Homo sapiens: one gene and its partner. The protein of the gene in region 1 purifies or fractionates together with the protein of each later gene. This does not show direct contact. Each region holds a gene or a part of one and is shown on either strand. Other genes may lie near its edges.

Region 1 (3,758 bases):
ATATTCCTTATTAATCTTTGTATTCCAAAAATAATTTCTGAAAATCACAGGAAAGAAAACTTTTGTGTATTTATTAGCAGAGGCAAGCTATACTATCAATTGGACACCTCAAGGGCACAAAATTGCCTGGAACTACAACCTTCAAGTTCAAAATTTCTACCTCCAGAAAGCAATGATGTTTCTAAAGATTCTCTTATTTTTTAATTGTGATTAGTAGATGTGTATTCCTACGTATTCTACAGCAATGAGAAATAAGGAGCACATTCTTTTTTTTTTTTTTTAATCAAATCGATTCTGACAAAAGGAGTTTATTGTCTTGCTTGTTAAAAGGCTGACCAAAAAGAAAGTAAGTCTGAATGTTTCAGAGTTGGGAGAAAGCCTGATTCCTTCTGACCCTGAGATATACAAGGAAACTGAACAAATACCAGGCAGCAAAATACTGAGACATTTACCACATAAGAAAGCATTCTTACATAGCAGTTGAGTACTGGGAAGGTTGTTGGGGAGGGTATTATTCACAAACAACTGTCAAAAGATATGAGACCACCGAGTTTTTCTTTTTCTAAAAATCACACTGAGTGATATTATTCTATCAAGAGGATATTCTGAAATACGTGGGCTATCGAAAAAGATGTAAGTACATTTTAAAAATGTTTTTAAAAGCATAGTCAAAACCATTCAAAAGAGAACTCACTCTGTAAAAACGATTCTCATATTTTTTCATGAGATTATCACTTGGCTACTTTAGGATATTTCTTACATGCCTGGTCTTCATCCTGACATATGCAGATGACACAAAATACTTGGGCTTATATTTTTACAGCTTCCTAAAATATAATGAAAACTATTTCCTCTGACACTTTGCCATGGGGCTCTAGGATACTTTTGATATATTTCCTAAAAATATTTAATTTAGATAACAAGGACCAATGACAAGCCAGAATTGGAACCATTCATTCTTTGAGGTCAGAAGTGGTATACTGCCAGCCCATTGAAGTTGAAATGGAAGACAATGTGGCTCAGGCCACAGGGTCAGTTGCTTCTCCTTTTTGGTAAGGTACTTCTTTCCCCACACTCTCACCCAAGTTATCCAGCCCCCAAAATAAACTGTTTCTGATAAAATTACTTTTGCTCTAAGTTAATTTTGTTTATGCATGAAAAATTATTGTCTTGGTCCCATTTCCAAAGGGAAGTAGTTGGATGCCAGCATACTTTAACATTTCGGCACATATACAAACCACAAGCTGTTTATTTCTACAACTCACGATTAATGTAAAACGTTGCTTTCCATGTGCTTTTTTTTCTTAAAGTTTTCAGTTTGGGCATATTTAATTGTGGATGATGGGTTTCCCTACCATTACCCTTAATTTGATGCTATTAGAATTTTTAAAAATCTTTTGTTTGAGGCAATGAATTGGGAACCTGGTACATACACTAGATTTTATGATGGCATAAGAAATTATAGCACATAAATTAATAACACTATAGTACTCCAAGTGCTGTTTAACAGATGTTTTACTGTGGGCTCTCCTTTACATCACTGGGTTAATTACCTAAAGAGGGACACAGAAAAAGTCAATGTGGAGCTGGCATCTGGACCACTCTTCACGTAAGGTGAATGGCTAAATCACCAAGGACAAGATACTTTTCTATGAAATAGGTCCTTCCTATCAGTAGGTTATTGCAGACTTTGCTCACCCAAATAATGACTTCCAATCTAACTGAAACTACCATTACCTTTAGTGAAATATCAATTAGGAATAAGGAAAGGGTTAGGTTTTGTAGGGTTTGAGTGATACTTAGAAGCGAGTCATTTTATGTTTGGTGGGTTTTGAATCATTTGATATACAAAACTTACTGAGTTAAAATTTGTGTTTCAGAAAACGGATTCCAATTTTCAGAGCCGTATGTCAGTGCTTCCTTAGAGAACTGGAGTGTTCTGGTCATCCTGAGAAGTAACAGGCGGAGGGATGCTCCATGATTATAATGTTTAGGTTAAAAGGTATGCTTGACTCCCAAGGTGTTCTGGGAATATTTTATGTGCCAGGACAATGCTGGGGCCCTGCAAAACATCAGTGATCTTGGGAAACCCAGAGGAGGTCAGAATACTACCTGGCAATCTTAGGCTGACCCCAGGAGGTTCATCAATCCGTGAATAATTTTTGGAGTTTTAATGACCTCCTGAGATAGATCTCCAAAATTACTCAAGCTAATCATGTCTCAGTTCTCATTAAAAAGATAAAAGAGGTGTTTCCAACACTACTGAAAATGTGTGTACATACCAAAGGATATAATACTCATTAGTATACCAGCATACAGAACACCAAACAATGGTGGATAGTTTCAAGGATATCAGAAGAGATGCCTTTTAAATTTCATATTGTATTGTGGATCCTGATTGGAACAAAAAGACTGTGAGTTCTGGGCAGGCCAAAGGCCTTGAAAAATAATGTTGATTTGAAGGGGCAGGGAGTGTGGAAGGCTTGTGTATGTCTGTTAAGTAGCGAAACAAAAAATAAAAACATTGTATTTATATATGTGTATAAATTTTAAAAGCCATTTAAACTGAACATTTGAAAAACATAAAACCTATTCATTAAACATATGTGTCTCTGAAAGTACCACTGACCCAATCCTAGAAGCTATTTTAATTTGGCTTTTCAGAGGCCCAAATTCTCTATAAACTTCTCCTTCCTCACAATCAGTAATTAAGACTGGTTCATTAATTTTGGACTCATGTATACTTTGTCTAATATCCTTTTATTTCTCTGCACCCCTCTACAACTCCTCCCCCAAAAGCCCCAAATCAGACTATGTTAATTTAACTGATTACTGTAAAGCCACAGCTAGATCCCAAATCTGACAAATATTCCAATTCATGAGACACCTATAGCATGTTATCTATATTTGTACACTTTATTTAAAAACAAATAATACACTTAGAGCCACCAAAGATGGATATCTTAATTAGCTTATCCATACCCTGAATTTACATAAGAAACTTCTTGCACCACAAAAATTAGCATTTGGATTAATTTACATTAATTGATGTAACTAAAATTTAAAATACCTGAAGATCAAACAATCTGGCCCAGGGCTCACCAGCTGGAGGACTGGGTGTGGAGAGAAAGGGTTATTTAGGAATCTGAATTGATGACACCCTGTGGTCAGCTCTAGTCAACTGAACTTGAGAAAACATAAAGTAACCAGCAGATTTCAATATTAAAAAGAAGTGGTTCCTCCTAAAAAAGGTATTAGATCATAGAGTTGGGATTAGGGTAGGGGATACCTATTAATCTGGGCTGGAAAAAAAGTGTGTGGAGAAGGGGAGTTGTATTGTTTTCTCACAAGAGGCAAACTTCAGCCAAACAATGAAGAGATAGTAGGGAGGGAGATGTGTGGTAGACCAAAGACTTTCTGATTGCTGATAATAACAAATTTAGCAGCTCTCTACAAGTCAATTAAAATACCATTCTCTGAGACATTTTCAGAGAGGAGCTAACTAACACCCACCCAGGGGGGAAAAATCATTCTACATTAACAAGGCACTCACTGGTTCACAGCCTGTTAAAAACCCAGGCAGACATTAGAATCTAAATTAAAATGATTTTGAAAATTTGCATCAGAGAGATGACAAGCATGTGGTCCTGGTTAAATTAAATCTAAAGCTTGGATTAGCAAAGATCCAGAAAATTCTGACCCCCTAAGCACCACTTTAGGAATACCGCCAGAATCAATGAGTGGGATCTAGGGATCTG
Region 2 (3,353 bases), on another chromosome or scaffold:
CCTCCCAGGTTCAAGCAATTCTCCTGCCTCAGCCTCCTGAGTAGCTGGTATTACAGGCACCCACCACCATGCCCGGTTAATTTTTGTATTTTTAGTAGAGATAGGGTCTCACCATGTTGGCCAGGCTGGTCTCCAACTCCTGACCTCAGGTGATCCACCTGCCTCGGCCTCCCAAAGTGCTGAGATTACAGGTGTGAGCCATTGCACCCAGCCAAGACTGCAGTTTTAACTCAGTTGATTTGCATGCAGTTTTTTCTCTTTGGTAGCAGATTCCCATCCTTTTGATAGTAGATAGTCACTGGAAGCAGCCAAGAGTCACCAGATTTTGGTCAAGTGTAGTGATTAAAGTGAGAGATCAAGTAGGCAATACTAGTTTTGGTTGAAAGCCTCTGACTATAGGGCAACGTGAATGGTTTTCACATGTGACTCAAAGTGGCTCTAAAGGCAATAACAACAGGAATTCCAAAACCATTGTGGGCAATTGGTTCATCACCAAACCAAGCATATTACTTCCAAAAGAGTGAACTATGAAGGCGACAAACAGAGCTAGGTGATAATGCTTTCTCAGGATTCATAATGTTACACACATATCTCACTCATACACAGAAATTCTGAATGGTTGAGTCAATCAATTCATTTAATTAAAGTAGATTAAAGTTTAGGCTTACCTAAAACTTTAATATTTGCAATATTTTTTCAGTATGACATTCTCATAAAAACGTATTCACCACTCGAATGGTACTTCACATACATTATCTTTTTAATGTTCACACTACTACCACAAATATAAGTATTATTCTCCGCATGTTATAAATGAGAAAATGGAGACTCAGAGAAAATGTGATTTGCACAAGGCAACAACATCTGATAAAAGGTAGAACCAAGATGCCAATACAGATCTGTTTTGCTTCAAACACCACGTTCTTTTTATTCTCTAACCCTGCCATGTAGCACCTTTGAATAATTCTTAAATGTATCATTACAGGGTTGTTCAATTTTTAGCTGCAATGCTTAATATTTCTTAATGACTCTATTATTACCAGTGAATAATCCTATTCTTTATTTAACGTGGAAGTGAACTGAACAAAACTGAAGGTATTGCTTATGAACAGACTTATTTCTATTCTTGAGGAAAACTGGAAGTAACTACAAAAAGCCATTTATTCCACTTGAATGAAGTAAATATTGATACTAGACCTTACATTTAAAGAGACCAGTCTAGCAAGTGACTCTCATTTTAACAATAACCATATTAAAAGAGAAAAAAATAAAGCAGTAAGTTAAATAAAAGGTTAATAAAACTTGGAGGAAACAGCTCAGTGTTTTCTTTTAAACCCTGAAGAATACCAAATGTATGTTATGTTGCATAAAGAGTCATGTCAAGAGAAGACTATTAACAACCCAATAGTAGAGTCAGCATTAAGAACTTCAATGATATTCAACTCAAACATGCGTAGGGAGAGTAAAGTTATTTTATTAAATCATGCACGTCACGTGTGTTAGTGCAAATAGTTTAATCTGTACTCCAGAAATTCTATTGTACTTTATATCTTTACAAAATAGATTTAAAACAATTATTTACTTTAAAAAATGTAATTCTGAAGTTAAGCATTTCAGAACAATATTTGCAATAACCTATATACAAGAGGTACTGGGTACCACTGGCATATTAGCATTCTGTGGTGGAGTGGCTTCCTGCAACAGAAAATGATGAAATGAACTATATGACAGTATTTTCTACAAGTCATTTGTGACTAATTCCTCCATAAATCTAGTGATCTTCCCAAAAGCAATCTCAAATAGCTTAAAATATAACCTTTAAAGTATAAACAGTGACTGCCAAACATCACAAGGCAAATTATACCCTAAACTCCTATTTCAATATTTGGCTAGACCTGTGGATTGCCACAGAACATTCAAGCCAATTCACTGACATTCCCTCCCGGTCTTCACTGACTGAAAAATTTAACTATGTGATACTTTAGGATATTCTATGACCTAAATAAACTTTATTGACATAACTATGATGCCGCACAAAACCATGGCTAAACTTTCACTTGTGTTTTAAATTTATAATATCAAGCAGTGTTTTTAGGTGCTTCATTGTGCATAGAACACTATTAATCTTGGGAATAGTGCTTTTCATTAACAGAAAGTCCCAATTAACAACAATAAAAAGAAAATAACCATTTGCATACCCAACCAGGAAATTTGTTGGTAGGTACAACGCTCACCCTGAACATGAATTAGCTCTGACACATCATAAACCAAATTAGGTCAATACAAGCTTATCTAAAGAGATATTAATACTTTCTTCAATTAAACATGCTTGGAGGAATAGATGATAGAAAAAAAAAATCATGCTTCCTAAAATGCTGTATATGAGAAAGTAACTTGGCTTTTAAAGAAAAATATCTCTTTAAATACATGGTTTAATAAATTACATTCCAATTGACTCAACATTTTGGTTGACTGCACTGAAATTGTGTAATTACTATGTTTTTGCTCCCAGAAATACTTCAGTTTGCTCAAGAAAATACACTCTCATGGAAAGTTTTTCAAAGTTGATGTCCTCCACATCTTCAAGTCACATTAAGGCTGAACAAGCGTGCACATATTCCCCAAATTATCACCATAACAGTTTATTTTCCAAACGTATTTTTCCTTAAAAAAAAAAAAATCCACGCAAATAGTTGTCTCTAAGTCTTGTTCCCAATAGCTCAGTGGTTTCATAACAAGTAAAAATGGCGTAAATATGTAAAAAATATATATATGTGTATATATTTCAAACTGATAGGCACTGAGCACACAGGGCCTCTCTTCCCATGTATGTATTGGTTGTTTGGTTTGGGTAGTTATCAAATCAGAAAAATGAATTATCTGGTGATCAGAATTCAGAGTAAAATACTCATAAATTTAATGTTATAAATAATCTGGTGTACCAAGAAGCCTACTTTAGGCCACCATAATATTCAGAATCTTAACATACTAATTTAAAAATTACATGAAAAATTGCAAGCAAATTATTGCTTACAGTAGAATAAAGTCACAATTTTATATCTTCTTTATAGACAGATACATTTTATATAATTTAAAGCAATGACCCTACAGCTGTATTCTTGTACTTCTGCTGTTTTAAGAGGTAAAGAGGAAGAAAATGGTTCTGTTTGTCCCCAGCATGAGTGTGATGCCAGCTTCTAGAGGGAGGACGGTGTACGGACTCAAGGAACGCTCTCATGGAGAAGCTCTGGCCAGACCTGGCACGTACAGCACGATGGCTGTTACTGCAACCAGGGCAGCCAACATGGGCATCCAGGGCCAGGGTTTCTGTGTGGAAAGAAACCAAGAGTCAA

Evidence for each region.
Region 2: the proteins of STRN (region 1) and SLMAP purify together in Homo sapiens (affinity purification with mass spectrometry; 5 studies listed by BioGRID and IntAct, with this or other methods). This does not show direct contact.

Annotation. Positions count from the first base shown.
Region 1 is NC_000002.12:36,840,899-36,844,656, forward strand, and holds part of STRN (striatin), read right to left. Parts: 3' UTR 1-3,758. UniProt on the Homo sapiens protein: Calmodulin-binding scaffolding protein which is the center of the striatin-interacting phosphatase and kinase (STRIPAK) complexes.
Region 2 is NC_000003.12:57,927,270-57,930,622, reverse strand, and holds the end of SLMAP (sarcolemmal membrane-associated protein), read right to left. Parts: intron 3,328-3,353; coding exon of another isoform or gene 3,235-3,327; 3' UTR 620-3,234; downstream 1-619. UniProt on the Homo sapiens protein: Associates with the striatin-interacting phosphatase and kinase (STRIPAK) core complex, forming the extended (SIKE1:SLMAP)STRIPAK complex.